2 separate regions of the Homo sapiens genome follow, and region 1 is linked to region 2. A link means that fine-mapping ties the variant in region 2 to the expression of a gene that starts in the linked region. Tissue or cell type: minor salivary gland. Region 2 holds a variant in brackets; the other region holds the start of a gene. All regions are shown on one strand. Distances are from middle to middle.

Region 1 (8,000 bases), 85 kb after region 2:
GCCACCTAAGCCTTGGGATGATATGGAGGATACCCATTCTGATTTGATCTGGAAAGTAGTGGTTCTCATAGTGACCACCACAGCTAGCCTGAGGCAGAGGTCAAACTCCCAGCAGGGCAGAGGTGATGATGGAAGGGATCATCTGGACCAAACAACAAAAGGGCCACAGAGGGACAGCAGAACAAACCGCTCGGCAGGGAGGGGCTTTTCCACGCCTGCAGTGTAGCCATCCTGAATGGGCATAAGAGATAGCAGTGGGCACTGGGCTTTTGGGGAAAGTCTTCTTTTGGGGGTGGGGATAGCGTGTATTTCCATGTTGCTCCTCTCCACATTCATGGATATCTTTTAAGTATCAACATCCCTTGGGGTGGGGCAAAGGAGGTATTTATGTTCAGAGGTCACAATGGGAAGGTCAGGCCAATACACTGCTCAGACAAGGAGCTTACACTGGGCTGTTCTCTGCAAGGAGACAGATGACTGGCTGGACCCAAGGGCAGCCCCAACTCGGAAACATGGCAAGGGCTGGGTGTGAAGGGCATGGCCCAATGAGATCTAGGTCCCTGGCTGTGCCAATCAGACCAGTTCTCTCTGGGTCTTGACAGAGCATGGAGAGGAGTGATTTACTACTAGCAAGAAAACAGAGTAAAAAGCAGAGACAAGAGGGGAGGGGGAGAAGATTCAGCTTCTGCAGATTCCCAATGACAAGGCCCCGCTATTAACTCCCTTTTCTTAGCTGGTGGGCACAGATGGCATCTGTAGTTTTGCTCTGTTTAAAAGAAAGAGGGGACCAGTGGGGCCCCCCCGGAGCCAGCATGGAAGTGCTAGTAGAGACTGAAGCTAAGGAAGCCCAAGACTGTGGCTCACCTGAAGGTCAAAATGGTAATTCACGCTGACCCCCTCCCAACGCCCCCACCCCCGCTGCCTCATCTACTCAGTGGCTGGGTAGGGGCTAGGAAGATACTCGTGGGCCTGTTGAGGAAAGGCGGGTGGATCGGTTTTGGTGGTGGTGGCACCACCCCTGTGAACTCTGGCAGCCTGAGTCACCTCCACAGAGCAGGCTGAGGACCTGAATTGTGCCTGGGAGGAGGGGGTAGGGGGAGGCAGGTGAGATAAGAGCTCCCCCGGTGAGCCTGGAGACTCTCAGCCCTGCAGGGCAGGAACAACAGTGAGCACCTCAGCCAGGTGGGGATCTGGCCCGGAATGGCTACAGACTGGGATTGGACATCCAAGGGAGAATGTGGGATAGGACGTGGCAGCTCAGTGGTGGGCTAGGGCCTGGCAGGTTGCAGGTGTTTGTCAGTTCCTAGCACATGCCAGGCTCCTTGATGTCTCAGCCTCGTGAAAGTCCTGTGGCTTCCACCCTGGGAGGGGAGAGAGGAAGTGGAGAGAGGCTGGCCTTGGCTCAGCTGCCAAGCTGCTCCGAGAAGGTCCCAGCTGTGACCCTACTGGAGGCCTGAGGCTGTGTGGATGCTGGGGTGAGGATGAGAGAGCCAGCCTTCTCCAAGGAAGGGAGGCTCAACACAGGGTGTAGGCCAGGCCCAGGAGTCTGAGGCCACAGCCCCCGGCAGATGGGCTGGCTGCTGAGGCCATTTGACTCTTTGGGCCCACATGTGGCCAGACCTGATGGGACCCTAGAAGCAGCCTGTACCCAAAGCCAACTGTAGGAGCTGGGACACTCCACCTGTCTCTAGCCCTCTATCTGCATGGCTGCCAACATTCAAGGCTCCTTAAACCTTCCGGGGTCTCTTCCAGTCACTGCCCAGGTCCAACCCAAGTGTTTCCCCAGGAGTAGGGCTCCAGGACAGTCACAACCTCCAGATCAGGAGCACGGTTTGTGATAACGCAACCATGGCTTCTTCCCTGGCGGCATCGAGCTGTGGGCACTCCCTGAGCTGGGGAGTTGGGGTAGGGGTGAGATGGAACTGGAAAAGCAGAAGAGAGAGAGAGTGAAGCCCCTCCAACTACAGGTCCCTGCACCCCTGAGCTCCTGGCCAGCTAGGATGCCATTAGCAATGCACGGCCATTGAATTCCATCACTGCTTCCTATGTATTGACGCCATCCCTAAGTAGATTAGAAACTCAATGGTGGGACTGTGACTTGAAATTCTTTGGCACTCCAGCCCAGAGTGGCAGGTGGGCCCAAATGGCACTCTCCGCCCAGTACTTGGGTCACAGGCTGAGGGGTAATCCTCACCAACAGGAGCCCCCTAAAGCTCCTCCTGCCTGTGTGAATGGGGTGGGGGAGGGTGGCCAGACTGGGTCGGGGCGGGGCTCCTATCCTGCCTCCCACCAGGGCCTGGCTCCTCCTTCAGCTCTCCCTGGCCAGGCCAGGGAGGGAGGGCAGAGCAGGTGGGGAAATGGCTGGGAGGTGTAACTCGAGCCCAGGAGGAATTCCCTGCCCTTCCTCTATGCTTTTATTAAAGTAGGGCGGGGAAGGGCAAGCTTCCATCGGAAAAATCTCCCAGGCAGCCCGGAGAGGTGGGAAAGCCGCCGTGGGCCAGGGAGGGAGCACCAGCTGAGCTGCAAATAGAAACGGCGCTCAGGCCCGCAGCCCGGGCAGCCCAAGGGCACCAAGGCCTGAGCACCGTTCAGAAGCGGCTCCGGGGTGGTTCTTTCTCCCTACTCCCCGCCCAAGTCCTCTCCCCGCCTATCTGGGGCAGGGCGCAGGTCTTAGAAGTCGGGGAAGAGTGGACCCTGCTCTTGCTCTGGGGCAAGAAAGCTGGCGCCTTCGGTGTCCTCGCTCGGGAGACACCATGGAGCTGGGGCGCTGGCTGGACTCGGCTCTACGCCGGGATGTCGCGCCTGGTCACCCGCGGGACCCATCCAGAGCGGGGCCCCGGGAGGGACGCCAAGCGGGCTCCTAGCGAAGAGAGGCGCGGGGTCCACCCTCTCGAATCCAGGGCTTCGACGTAGGGGCGCTGTTGGGAGGAAGCGCTGTGGGAGGCAGGGTCCGTCCTTAGGACCCCGCCCGGGCGTGCCTAGGCTTCCTCGCAAAAGCGCAGAAAGTCGCCAAAGCGCCCCCGCAACCCGAGTCCGCTGCCTCAGCCGTTTGCACCCATCCCCCCGCCTCCATCCTGGCCCGCCGTGCGCGGCTCGGTATCACCCAGACGGGAGGCCACCTGGGCAGGAGCGCAGTTGCCCAGCCGCCCAGCTCTTGCTCCGCCTGTGGCTGTCCCCGAGAGCAGCCCCCTCCCCACTCGCAAAGAGCGCCACTGCGCGCCAGCCGGGCTCTCGAGGAATCGGCTGCCCTGGAGGGAAGGAAGGAGGGGAGGCAAGGGCTGGGGGCGGCGGAAGCGGCTCCCGGGACACAGGCTGAATGTAAGGGGGTCGGGGTGGGGGCTCAGTGCCCAGAACAGGGCTGTAGGAGTAGCGGGGAGGAGAGCGAGGCCCTGCGCCCTCAAGGGTTTGCGAAGAGGTGCGCTGCAGAGGGCGAGCTGGGGAGGGGCAGACTGCCAAGTCCGCTTGCTTCCCCGCCACGGCCCAGAACAGGGGGCGCGTCTCCGCTCCCTCCACCTCCAAGTCCCAGCCTGCGGACGTGGCGCCTCTCCCTCCAAGCCCCCAGCCCGCAGCCAAAGGGCAGGGCGGGGGTCTTACCTCGGCATGGACCTCCGCGTCTTCGGCCGCTACGCCAAGGCCCAGGCAGCCCAGAAGCACCAGGAGCAGCGGCAGCAGTCGCGGCCGCGCCGCCTCCTCCCGGTCGCCGAGGAGGCTGCCCGTCCAGCCCGGCCGTCCGGGCGCGCTCGGGTCGCTGCCCATGCTCTCGGCGCCCAGCCCAGCTCGGAACACTGCACGCCGGATCCTCGCACGCGCCTTGGAAACTTGCGACGCTCCCTGGCTCCTGGCCCGGCAGGCGCGCCGCGGACCTCGGGCTCCCGGTCCCCGCCGGAGCCGCCTAGGTCGCCTCGGCAAATTCCCAAGCCCGAGGAGAAGCGGGCAGGGCAGGTCCGGGAGCTCGGAACCAGCCGGCGGGAAAGGGGGCCGACCGGAGCTGCCCCCGGCGAGGTTCCGCAGCCTCGGCGCCCAGCGCCTGGGGCCCGGCTCCCGAGAGCAAGCGCAACTCCGGAGCCTTTGTCTGGCTCAGCGCTCCGGCCGCCCGGTCCCGCGGCGCTCCCTGCGCGCCCAGCTCCCTCTGTCCATGCCCGGGGCCGGGCGCTGCCCGGAGCGCGCGCCTCCTGCACGGGGATTCTGCTCGCCGCCGCGCCCGACCGGGCCCGGGTCCCCAAGCAGTCCCGGGAGGAGGCGCAGGGAGCCGACCCGAGAGAGCGAGCGAGAGAGCAAGCGAGCCAGCCAAGGAGCGGGCGCCCGACGTCCCCGGCGAGTTCAGCGCGGCTCCGGGCGCTCCCAGCCCTCCTCCCCGCGCGCCGCGGCCGCCGCGCTCTTAAAGGGCCAGTGTGCTCCCAATGCGCGGACCCGGGCGGGGACCGGGGGCGGTGCCCCAGCCGCAGGCTTCTCACAAGCAGGTGCGGGCGGCCGAGGCCCGACAGGTGGGCGGTCCGTTTACGCTTCCCAGACGGCAGGAAACCTCTCCAGCCCACCCCGCGTCACTCCCAACCCAGCGCCTAGGGGGCGGGGGTGACCTCCAACGCGACCCCCCGCGGAGGGAGGAGGCAGGGAAGGCGTGGTCTCCCCGCCTGGGAAGAATGAAGACTCCTCCTTCTCATACCTGGTGGGGGATACCGAGGCCTAGGCGGACGGGAAGGAGGTCTTAGGGGAGGGATCAAAGAGTCGTTTTAGGCTTAAATATAAATATATATGTATATATGGATATTTGTCAGCCTGAAACCTCTTTTCAAAAGCCGCAGGGTGTCTCTGGCCATTGAATAACTTTCCTCAGTAGCAAAGTGAGGGTTTTGTGCGCGTCGAGGGCGCGTTGCGGCGGACAAGGGGCAGGTTTAGGAGGGACACGGTTCAAGTTCCGCGTCCGCCCCTTAGCTGCCGCTTGCACGTGGGCAAATTAATCTCTCCGAGCCTCCATGTTCTTATCGGGAACGTGGGGCAAAGAGTTGGGGTGAGGGCGAGGTAAGACTTCCGGCTCCTGGCCTGGCGCAATAGGTGCCCAAGCACTTTGGCCACTGGCTGGTGCGAGTGAAGTGCGACAGTGCGGCCGGAGTCGGCGCGGGGCGGGTGGACACACCTCCCCGCGAAGCTTAACGAGCTGGATTTCATTCTATTCCGGAAGCAGCTTGAGGTCGGGGCGGGGTGGATGCAGGAGGCCAGAGCTGGGAGGCCCGGGTCGAAGGTCCACCGAGACCCGGGGACCAGGCCAAGGGCAGCCCTGGCGCGGCGGACTGGCCGGCGTGGTCAGTGGGTGAGGGTTGCAGGCAGGAGGGCGGAGACCGAAGATAAGCTGTTCCTTATCTTCAGACCCGGAAATGGAAGCCGTCCTCACCTGAGGGCGGTTTTCTCTAGAGCAGGCCCTCGGGGCACCCTAGCCGGCCTCACCTCCCGGAAACTGGAAATCAGGAGACCTGGCAGAGTGCCTTAGAGAGGGCGCGTTTGAACCCTCCTGGGATGTCCTTGGGGAAAGGAAGTCGGAGTTTAGAGAAAGGAACCGGGCGATTCTATCATTTCCACGGACTCACTTCTCTGTGGGATCCTTCATCTGGGAAGTTGGTTTCTAAATTCTCCACTTCGAAATTTGCTTTTGGGAAATGTGCAGTGGTCTTCAGACACGGACAACGGGGTTGTCCTTGTTTAACCGACCACGTCGCACTCTTTCATGATATTTAGTCCCGATTAGCCAATTTTAAAAAGTTTGGGGCTAGGTAAAGTGGCTCAAGCCTGTAATCCCAGCACTTTGGGAGACCGAAGTGGGAGGATTGCTTTAGCCCAGGAGTTCAAGACCAGCCTGGGCAACATGACAAGACCCCATCTGTACAAAGAATACAAAAATTAGCCAGGTGTGGTGGTGTACGTCTGTAGGCCCAGCTACTTGGGAGGCTGAGTTGGGAGGATCACTTGAACCCAGGAGGTTGAGGATGCAGTGAGCTATGATCATGCCGCTGCCCTTCAACCCGGCTGTCAGAGCGAGACACTGTCTCAGAAAAAAAGAAAAAAAAAGTTGGGGTTTAAGGGGCTAGCTGTTAGTGAGAGGAGCCCAGGAATGAGTGGAGCAACGTTCTTTGAGGCCTGGGTCGGTCAAGTCTGGTGATTTTCTCTCTGTTGGAGGTTCCTCTCTTGGGGTCCAATCCTGCCTTAAGGAAATGACATCCCCTGTGACCAGATCTTGAAGCTCCCAATTATTGGTTCTGGCTCCTATAGGTACTTTGGGAGTCCAAGGTGGATTTGCATCTACATCCAACCCAAGATAGCTGGGTTTCTACTGGGTCTGGACAGCACCCAAAGCCCGAAAGGACTAGTCAGTGGGACTGAGATGTGTGAACTGCAGCCCTTCCATCAAGTAGCTTTAAACCTTATCCATATTTTGCCAATACCGTTTCATCTATGCCCTGACACCCCCGCCCACCACCACACACCTTTTTTTTCTTGGTCTTTTGAATGAAAGCCCAGACATGGTGTTTCAGAGCAGTTTCATTTAGAGGTCCCGATGTGGTGTGAGGGATTGTAAAAAGCTCTGGATCAGAAGCCAGGTCCCTGGGTTTTTGCCTCAGCTGTAATTTACTGGGCAATCCGAGCAAGTTATTCCCCTCTTTGGGTTTGTTTCCTCATTTGCAAAAGGAGAGTTCTGAGGTCGTAGGGGAGGTCTCCTGTTCAGTGAAGGAAAGTAGCTGTGGGATGGAACTAGGCCCAGGACACCCCCTCCCCCAGCTCTCCCCTCCAGGGGCCCCTCGGGCGATGCACCCACCCGACCCACCATCAAAGGTGAAGCAGGCCTTGGGACTCTTCGTGCCAAGACAAGGAATAAACAAACAAGCCAAGGTAATTTCCCTCTCCCTTGGAAACAAAGCTGGGGTGGTCTGGAGAGGCGCTGGAGAGTGCCAGGTGGAAATCAGCCAAACAGGCGTGAGATGATTTCCCTGCCCTGCGGGGAACATCTGAGGACACCGAGGCCAGATGTGTTGATTTTGTACTCTCCCTGGTGCGATAAAATCCTCATCAAGAGCATTTCTTTGGGCCAGCCTCCCTGGGGGGGACCGCAGCCTTCTCTGGTCTTCCCTCTGTCTCCAGAATTGTCTCCCATGTTTCTCCTCTTATGGAGAATCTCCTGTTATGGAAGAGCCCCGGCTGCTTCTGCACTGTCAGCGGGAGCGCTCGCTCAACGGGCTTACTCTGCTCCAGAGGCACACTCAGTGTCTGGGTGCCCGCCAAGCTCCTGCCGCCAGCCTCCTCCTCAGGCCCAGCCTGCCCACCCCTCCCCCTCAGCGAGACTCCTGCTTCCTTCCTCCATTGCCACCTTCCATTCTCCATTGAGGAGCCAGTTATTGATCTTGGCCCATTTCTCAAAGTTGCTGCACTCAAATTCCATCCTCAGCACAGACAGACTCCCCAGCCACATCCTCCCCCAGGGGAATGGCCCAGTCCCTCTTCCTGGGCTTGTTGATGGAGGCCCTACCTCACACCTGCCCCCCTCCCAATAGGAGCCAGTACCCAAGTCTGGGGAAGTACCATGTTGAGGATGGGGATTCTTCTCTGTGCTCCCTGCCTGCTCAGCCCTGCTGTGAGCACCCAGAGGGTAGACCTAGTCTGGTTCACCAAGTGCCCAGTTCAGGGCCTGGCACAGGGCAGGTGTCAGTTAAGTGCAGGCTGCACAGCCGGAGTTGCCATGTTGCTTGCAAGCCAGAAAGTATGCCCGGCATCCTCCTCCTCTCCAGAAGAACCAGACTAATGATGAGTCGGAGTCAGCAGATCAATGCGGTGGGGAGCAGGAACAAGGCACAGAATGTGCCTGTGTCTTTCAGTGCAGTGGCTGGGAGGCTGCCCCTTTCAGGAAAGGTGGGGTTGCAGGGGCCACCATGGGAGCCTGGGCAACAGGCCCCTCTCCCCACACCTTTCCCTGAAGCCCTATGTCCCCACCCAGATGCCAGGCCTGACCACGAGGT
Region 2 (8,257 bases):
CAACTTGCTAGACTTCACACGGCGAGCATACGGCACCAATTACATCGAGACCCTCAGAGTGCAGGTACTGCTCCTTTCCCAGATAGAGCCCTGGGTTGGGGATAGGGCACACTGCGTCTAATATTGGCTTGTGGCCCACATAGCAGAACAGTGTGGGTTTCTGGCTTCAGTTGCCACACTGTCCAGGGAGCTTTGGCCTCACAAAGGTCCAGGAAATATTCAGAAGTCGGGTCAGGTATAGAGGTGAATACAGCAAGTAAGACCTCCCTCTTGCCAGAATCCATCCCTAAGACAAGCCAAGGAGATGCCGGAGATGACGCGTTTCCAGTCCTGGAAGAGGGCCTCTAGAAGATTCAGGAAAAGGGGGAGAACAGTCACATTTCGCCTCTCAAAAGAAGCATTGCCTTGACAGATCCATGCAAATTGTCGCATCCGACGGGTTTACTTCTCAGACAGACTCTACTCAGAAGATGAGCTGCCGGCAGAGTTCAAACTGTATCTCCCAGTTCAGAACAAGGCAAAGGTAAGCCAGTCTTCCCCAGAGGAAGGTCCACCAGTGAGTGGGGGGAGCTGTGTTCCTGGAAGGTGCTCTGGTCTAAGAATTCAGCTGCAGAGCCTCTCTGTGTTGACACTTTGGGGTGCCTTTATATCGCAAGATCTTAGGTCTCCTTCCAGCACTGAATCAGGAATGCTCCTGTGAAATACTCTGTTACTGCTGTTTCCCCTCTCCACGGTGAGAGGGGATGAGGCACTTCCTACTACTGGCTCACAGAACTTCAGAAAATATCTTAACTTTTTTTTTTTTTTGAGATGGAGTCTTGCCCTGTTGCCCAGGCTAGAGTGCAGTGGCACGATCTCAGCTCACTGCAACCTCTGCCTTCCAGGTTCAAGGGATTCTTGTGCCTCAGGCTCCTGAGTAGCTGGGATTACAGGCGCCTGCCACCATGCCCAACTAATTTTTAATTTTTATAGAGACGGGGTTTCACCATGCTGGCCAGGCTGGTCTCAAACTCCTGACCTCAAGTGATCCGCCTGCCTCGGCCTCCCAAACTGCTGGGATTACAGGCGTGAGCCACCGTGCCCAGCCCCATCTTAACTCTTAATCAGCCCAAAAGTATTATCAGCTGATAGGTCCCTGCTAACACAAGGGTGGGTGCTTCCCTGCCTGTGTGCTGCAGATGTGTGTCCATTCTCCACAGTCACTGTCCACTCAAGTGTCACCAGAGGCAGGGGGCCTGTGACACTGACCATCTATTTTCTAGTAACTTAAACTGATGCCACTTCTCTGTTTTTTCCCTTCAGCAATAACTGGAATTGTGACTCGAGGGATAGACCCCTGGATGTGACTCTTCTTTTTAAAAGGAAACTATGTGGAGGACGATGCAAAAACATATTTATCTTAGTTTGCTCTGCTGTAGTTCTGTTATTTATACTTGGTGTTGCTTGTCATGGACACCGGTGAACATGCCGTAACTCTGTGACTGCATTGTAAGTGCAGTGGGGGTAAGCAGTCCTGTGAGTGGCGCATGAACGCTGGAGCTTATTCCGCCGCCTGCCCCAGTGTGGGGGGAGATACCTTTACCATGAACTTACAGAATTAAAGATGGCCCATAAGGAATTCCAGACCAATATTTCTTCCTGCGGTTTATTCTATGTTTTATATATTATCTAAATATATGTATATGCTGTGTCATACTCATAATCTGGAAATGAATAAAGTGATATATTCCTGGTTTGTAAATTTGTTCCTAGTTTGTCTTTTTTCATGGTGATGTTTGTTTCCTTTGTGATATGAAAAGAGAACTATTTCCATTGAACATCTTATACATTTCATGCTGTGAAATGTCTTGTATTAAGTATCTAAAGAACAAGACATATTATGCAGCTGACCCTTGAACAACACAGGTTTGAACTGTGCGGGTCCATTTATATGAGGATTTTCTTCCACCTCTGCCACCCCTGAGACAACAAACCAGTCCCTCCTCCTCTCCCTCCACCTCCTCCTCTTCCCCTCCTCATCAATGTGAAGACAACAATGATGAAGACCTTTATGATGATCCACTTAATGAATAGTAAATATATTTTCTCTTCTTTATGATTTTCTTAATAACGTTTTCTGTAGCCTACCCTATTGTGAGAATACAAAATACAGTATGTAATTCATACAAAATATGTGTTGAATGGCTGTTTATATTATCAGTAAGGGTTCTAGTCAACAGAAGGCTATAGTAGTTAAGCTTTGGGAGAGTCAAAAGTTATACATAGATTTTTGCATAAGGGGGTCGGTGCCTCTAACCTCTGAGTTGTTCAAGGGTCAACTGTATAAACTGGTTCAGAACAACTTTGAAGACTAAATGGGAAAAAAAAAATAGTATGTGACCAGTGGAATCATCTTGCTAGGGGTTGGGTCCTAGGTTGAGCTTAAGACAGAATGACATAGTCTAAATTGCACCTAAAGCATTGGAGCAGATCACCATTTCTCTATTTGAGTTCCCGCTGAAGTACTACTGGCCTTGAATGTAGGGACTTAAAGAAAAATGTTTCTTTTTTTGAAACGGAGTCTCACTCTGTCGCCCAGGCTGGAGTGCAGTGGCAACATCGCAGCTCACTGCAAGCTCCTCCTTCTGGGTTCACACCATTCTCCTGCCTCAGCCTCCTGAGTAGCTGGGATTACAGGCGCCCGCCACCACGCCCAGCTAATTTTTTTCTATTTTTAGTAGAGACGGAGTTTCACGGTGTTAACCAGGATGGTCTTGATCTCCTGACCTCATGATCCGCCCGCCTCGGCCTCCCAAAGTGCTGGGATTACAGGCGTGAGCCACTGCGCCCGGCCAGAAAAATGTTTCTTTAAACGCTGGAATCGCATGAGGGAACTGGAACCTTACACCACTTTTCCCACTGTGCTTATTCTGGGCAGATGCCTGTTGAGTGGAATGACACTGGCACTATTGCCTGCTTTTTTCTTTTTCTCTTTTCTTTTTTTTTTGGTTAGGCACAGATGAATTTGCAAAAGTTAAGCACTGTATATGATACAACTCTACCACATGCAACATTTCTGAGGGGAAAGCAATTTGAGGGCAGAGAAAAGCACTTATCAGCATCCCCCTATTAGGTGGTGTCCTATATGATCTTGAAGGACACACAACTAATACAGTGATTACCTGGGCAGAATGATTTTGTTGTGTTTTTTTAAATCACTTGTATACTCTCTTCTACTATTAAAAAAAACAATGTTTTTGGCCAGGCGTGGTGGCTCACGCCTGTAATCCCAACACTTTGGGAGGCCAAGGCAGGCAGATCACTTGAGGTCAGGAGTTTGAGACCAGCCTGGCCAACATGGTGAAACCCCATCTCTACCAAATATAAAAAATTAGCTGGGTGTGGTGGCGCGCTTCTGTAATCCCAGCTGCTTGGGAGGCTGAGGCAGGAGAATTGCTTGAACCTGGGAGGCAGAGGTTGCAGTGAGCTGAGATAGTGCCACTGTACTCCAGCCTGGGTAACAGCAAGACTCTATCTCAAAAAAAAAATTTTTTTTGGAAAGACATTTTTGTAATAAAAATTTCAAAGTTAATGCAAGAGCAAAAGGCTATTCCAGATTCTGTGCCCTCCCCAGTCACTCCCCGGGGTTTGCTGTCATTGCACAGACTGGAA[C/T]TGTGGGCACCTGCCATTTTGACTTTGGTTAGAGGTAAAAACATTAAGTTCTGGGATTTGTCATTACCATTGCTGCCTTCTGAGAAGTTAAATGGCAGGAAGCACGCTTTCCCCACATCCGTATCCTCCAGAGTATGCTGTGGGGAAGCATGGCCAAGTCTCTGAGGAGGCAGGGGCTACAGGAGGTGGAGAAGTGGAGGGGAGGGTGCTCCACAGCTACCTGATGAGACAGTTGTCAAGTGCCTGAAACTCAGGTGGGCGCAGTTAAGACAACTTTCCCCTTTTTCCTTCTGCTGGTGACCAGCCTGGAGCCACCTTCTGGAGGATGCTGCCCCTCTCCTTTGAGTCCCTAGTCATCAGCATCACAGAACACACCCCCTCAGCCCAGGTGACAGAGCCTGCTCTTGCAGGGCTAACTCTGGTCAAAACTGAACGTCGTCCTGCTTCCCTGTGCTTAGCATGTCAGCATCCCCCTCTTAGGCAGTGTGCCTGTCTCCTTCACTTTCTTGCTTACAATAGGAATCCTCAAATGGCTGAGTGGGTGGAGGGGTGGGCAATAACCAACAGAGTGTCTAGCCTCTGGCCACTGTCTAGTGAAATCTTCCCTCCAATCCAGACTCGATTATGGCATGAAAGATGCTTTTGTGATGACAAGAAAACCGCGTTAACTTCTCATCTCTTCTGGGTGCCAGGATATCAGTGAAGTGCTCCTGGGGGTTCAGAGCAACACAGGGAGGCACTCTCCTCCACACAGAGCCTCTTTCACCCCAGGCACTTGTTAGACCGTGTCTGGGGATTACCTCACCACCCTTTGGGGTGGTAGGTGGTGACTTCCCAGATGCCTCACATACCCATCCCAGAGGAAGAAGGAAGCGAGGGGCCCCGGGGGTGATGAGAGGTATTATCTGAGCTGGCCCCAGGCCAGGGTGAATAGTGGTGTCATGACTGCACAGCCCCTTGCCTGCAGCTTTCCAGCTCCCCAGGAAGACGACAACCTCCAGTGAGGCTGAGGGAAGAGGGAATGACAGGCTGCTGGGCTGAGGCGCCCTCATGGAGTTTGGGCCTGGGTGATCTCGGATCACGGTAATTGGAGCAGGCAGAATTGCATTATCCAGCTCCTTGGAAGTCACAGTGTGTTTTAGAAGGAATTGCCCTCTAAATGAGAGAGTGTTAGTTAATTGGCATGAACTTGGAATAGCACACAGCCGTTCCCAACAGGGCTGATTCTGGGGGAGAGTAGATTTACTCTGGCCCTTAATTGCCCCTGGCCCGTTGATTGCTTCCTCTATAGCCAGGCTAGAAGACTGGCCGGCGCCACACCAGTCAGCTCCTGGGGCATTTCTGAAGGTTGCAAGAATCCCAGAGAACAACCCCAAACCGATGTCCCTAGCCCCTCAGTGGCTTCACCCAGAAGCCCTAAGTGTCAGGAAATTCACTGAAAAAGATCTTGCAGCTCTTGTCTGCATCCTCATCCCCTCATTTTACTGATCAGGACACTGAAGCCCAGAGAGGGATGGGCTAGCCCCTCTAGAAACAACGGGGTGGAACGAGGACCCCATGCTCCTGAGGAGACCCATATGCCATCCCTGTCCTCTTTTGTGTTGGCATCCCCTTGCATCAAGCACTGGAGTCAGCTCTGCCCAGCAGTGAGGGCTGGCCTGCCCAGTCACTATGTGGTCACATATTAGTTGAACACAAGGGTCTGAGGCTGACAGTAAAAATCTCATTTGTGTTTAACCAGGGAATCATAAAAGTAATACATGCTCATGGTACATTCATGAGCTCATGGTTCAAAGAATATGAAGGGCTGGGCACGCCTGTAATCCCAGCACTTTGGGAGTTCGAGGCAGGTGGATCACTTGAGATCAGGAGTTTGAGACCAGCCTGGCCAACAGGATGAAAGCCCATCTCTACTAAAATACAAAAAAATTAGCCGGGCGTGGTGGCGTGCACTGCTAATCCCAGCTACTCAGAAGGCAGAGGCAGGAGAATTGCTGGAACTTGGGAGGCGGAGGTTGCAGTGAGCTGAGATCGCACCACTGTACTCCAGCCTGGGCAACAAGAGTGAAACTCCATCTCAAAAAAAAAAAAGAAAGAATATAAAGTAACATATAAGTCCCACTTCCCATTTCTGAAATGACAGCACCCGAATGTATTAACAGAATGTAGTTGCCCTTTCTTCCTGCACCCAGCCGCCTAGCATGAACAGCTTTTTCAGTTTCCTGATCGCTGTCATGTGTGTTCTCTCAGGAGCCTGGGAAGGCCTGGCACTGCAGATGACTTCTAACGACAATGGAGACCCACGCAGTACATGGCAGTGCTTTTCAGAAGGTAGCATGCTTTCATAGCCGTTGCATGTGGCGCCCTTGGGATCCTGTCTGGAAGGTTATATGTGGCGCTGCCCCCATCTATGGACAAGCACAGAAGTTAAATAGCTCACAGGGGCTGCATGGCTCACATGGGCCAGAGCTGGGAATAAAGCCTAGGGCTTCCTGCTAGAAGGTCAGGCTCCTGATGCTGAGCACAAGTGTCTGCTCATAAGGCATCTAGAATAGACTTGAATAGGCCGGGCACAGTGGCTCATGCCTGCAATCCCAGCACTTTGGGAGGCCGAGGCGAAAAGAACAACTGAAGTCAGAAGTTTGAAACCAGCCTGGCCAACATGGTGAAACCCTGTCTCTACTAAAAACGTAAAAATTAGCTGGGCATGGTGGGCACCTGTAATCCCAGCTACTCAGGAGGCTGAGTCAGGAAAATCGCTTGAACCCGGGAGGCGTAGGTTGCAGTAAGCCAAGATTGTGCCACTGCACTCCAGCCTGGGCAACAGAGCAAGACTGTCTCTAAATAAATAAGGATAGACCTAATTGGTTGGAGGGCGGGGGGTGCACAATGTACCTTTCCCACAGGAAGATGAATCTACTGAATTTTAATTCATATTCTTAAATTATGTTGCTGGGCCAGGCACAGTGGTTCATGCCTGTAATCCCAGCACTTTGGGAAGCCAAGGCGGGATGATCACCTGGGACCAGGAATTTAAGACCAGCCCAGGCAACACACCGAGACCCCATCTCTACAGAAAATAAAAAACTTAGCCAGGCATGGTAGCATGCATCTGTAGTCTCAGCTACTGGGGAGTCTGAGGTGGGAGGATCACTTGAGTCGGGGAGGTGGAGGCTGCAGTGAGCTATGATTGCACCACTGCACTCCAGCCTGGGTAACAGAGCAACACTCTAAAAAAATAAATAAAAATCCAGCAAATTCAGAGTCCTTGGCCCTGGCCTATTTAAAATGCATATTTCTGGGACCCAGCTTATTAAAATGACAATTGTCCCCACCCCAAGAGATAACATTTTTATTCTCTCTCTCTGTCTAAAGCCAACCCAGAAATCTGCATCTTAATACCTTCTCCTGGTGTTTTTTGGTGATTCTGTCATCTGAGAGTGGCTCCACATTTGAGTGAGTGGATATGATACATCTGAGCGTAGAGAGGTCAGACACTGCTGGGAGAGAAAAGAAACGTAAAACACCGCCCTCCCCGCCCCCACCCACCACCCAGGCACATCTGCAGATTGCAACCTCCTCCTACCAAAAACAAACAAACAAAAGAACCCTTAAGTTCCTCCTTTTATACAGAATTCTAATATGTCATTGACATCTCCATACATTTTCCATAACCTGAAAGTGTGAGGTCCTGTAATGCAAATCACGAGTGCCTCTGGGCTGTGATAGAGGCACTCCAAATTGCAAATCCACAAGACATTGAACATCTGGATAGAGCATGAGCCTTGGAAAAATCATGCCTCTTGGTATCCATGGTGTCTGAAGCGAAGCAAAGCAAAACAGTGTGCCAGGGGTGGATATGGAAAGGGATTGAACAGAACCCCTTGTTAAAGGGGTATAAAAGGTCACCAAGCTCCTCTACTCTTCTATTGAATGACAGCAATAAATATCAATATAAGCCTCCATGGGTTCTCTCATCACTTGGGTATCCCCCAGCCCCTGTTTCCATAAAGTCTTAAATTGTAAATCCTGGTATTTTGGAGGGAATACAGTAAAATCAATAAATACAGTAAAATCGGGCCATAAATACACTAGCCTTTGGGTTCCAAGTCACTCTCCAAAGCTCCTTCCCATCCTCCAAGACTGTCCTCATGTTTACTTGAACCTAAAGCCTCTTTACAAGCCTGAGACCTCTTTTCTTGGTATTAGAAACTGACCTAAGCCCCCAGCAGTAAAAGGCAGGGAGAGCTGTAGTTCTCATTCCCTCCACCTGACTGCTGGTAGTGTGCTACAATGAAAGCAAATCTCAGCCCTTAAGGAAGGAGAAAAAAAATTATTAGTGAGCATGCAAAATAGGTTCATGCCACCTACACCTAAAGCTCGGTGGAAGTGCATGTTTTAGGATGTATGATGATATGGTTTGGCTGTGTCTCCACCCAAGTCTCAAATTGTAGCTTCCATAACTCCCCTGTGTTGTGAGAGGGACCTGGTGGCGGGTCTTTGCCATGCTGTTCTTGTGATAGTGAATAAGTCTCATGAGATCTGATGGTTTTATTTAATTATTATTATTATTATTATTATTATTGAGACAGAGTCTTGCTCTGTC

Evidence for each region. PIP is the estimated chance that this variant, and not a neighbour inherited with it, causes the effect.
Region 1: it holds the start of MMP15, and the variant in region 2 is fine-mapped to the expression of MMP15 in minor salivary gland (GTEx, PIP 0.98).

Annotation. Positions count from the first base shown.
Region 1 is chr16:58,022,107-58,030,106 of GRCh38, reverse strand. MMP15 (matrix metallopeptidase 15) reads right to left here and starts at 4,353. Exons shown (of 10, transcript NM_002428.4): 1 at 3,595-4,353. The coding sequence starts at 3,756. RefSeq lists enhancers at 2,689-3,238, 3,789-4,338, 4,571-5,156, 5,157-5,744 and a silencer at 4,205-4,344.
Region 2 is chr16:58,107,076-58,115,332 of GRCh38, reverse strand. CFAP20 (cilia and flagella associated protein 20) reads left to right here. Exons shown (of 6, transcript NM_013242.3): 4 at 1-64; 5 at 413-523; 6 at 1,303-1,741. The coding sequence ends at 1,308. Among named protein-coding and RNA genes, the nearest start is that of CFAP20, 18 kb to the left of the region's middle. RefSeq lists an enhancer at 5,846-5,895. The variant C/T (reference allele first, on the strand shown) is at 3,652.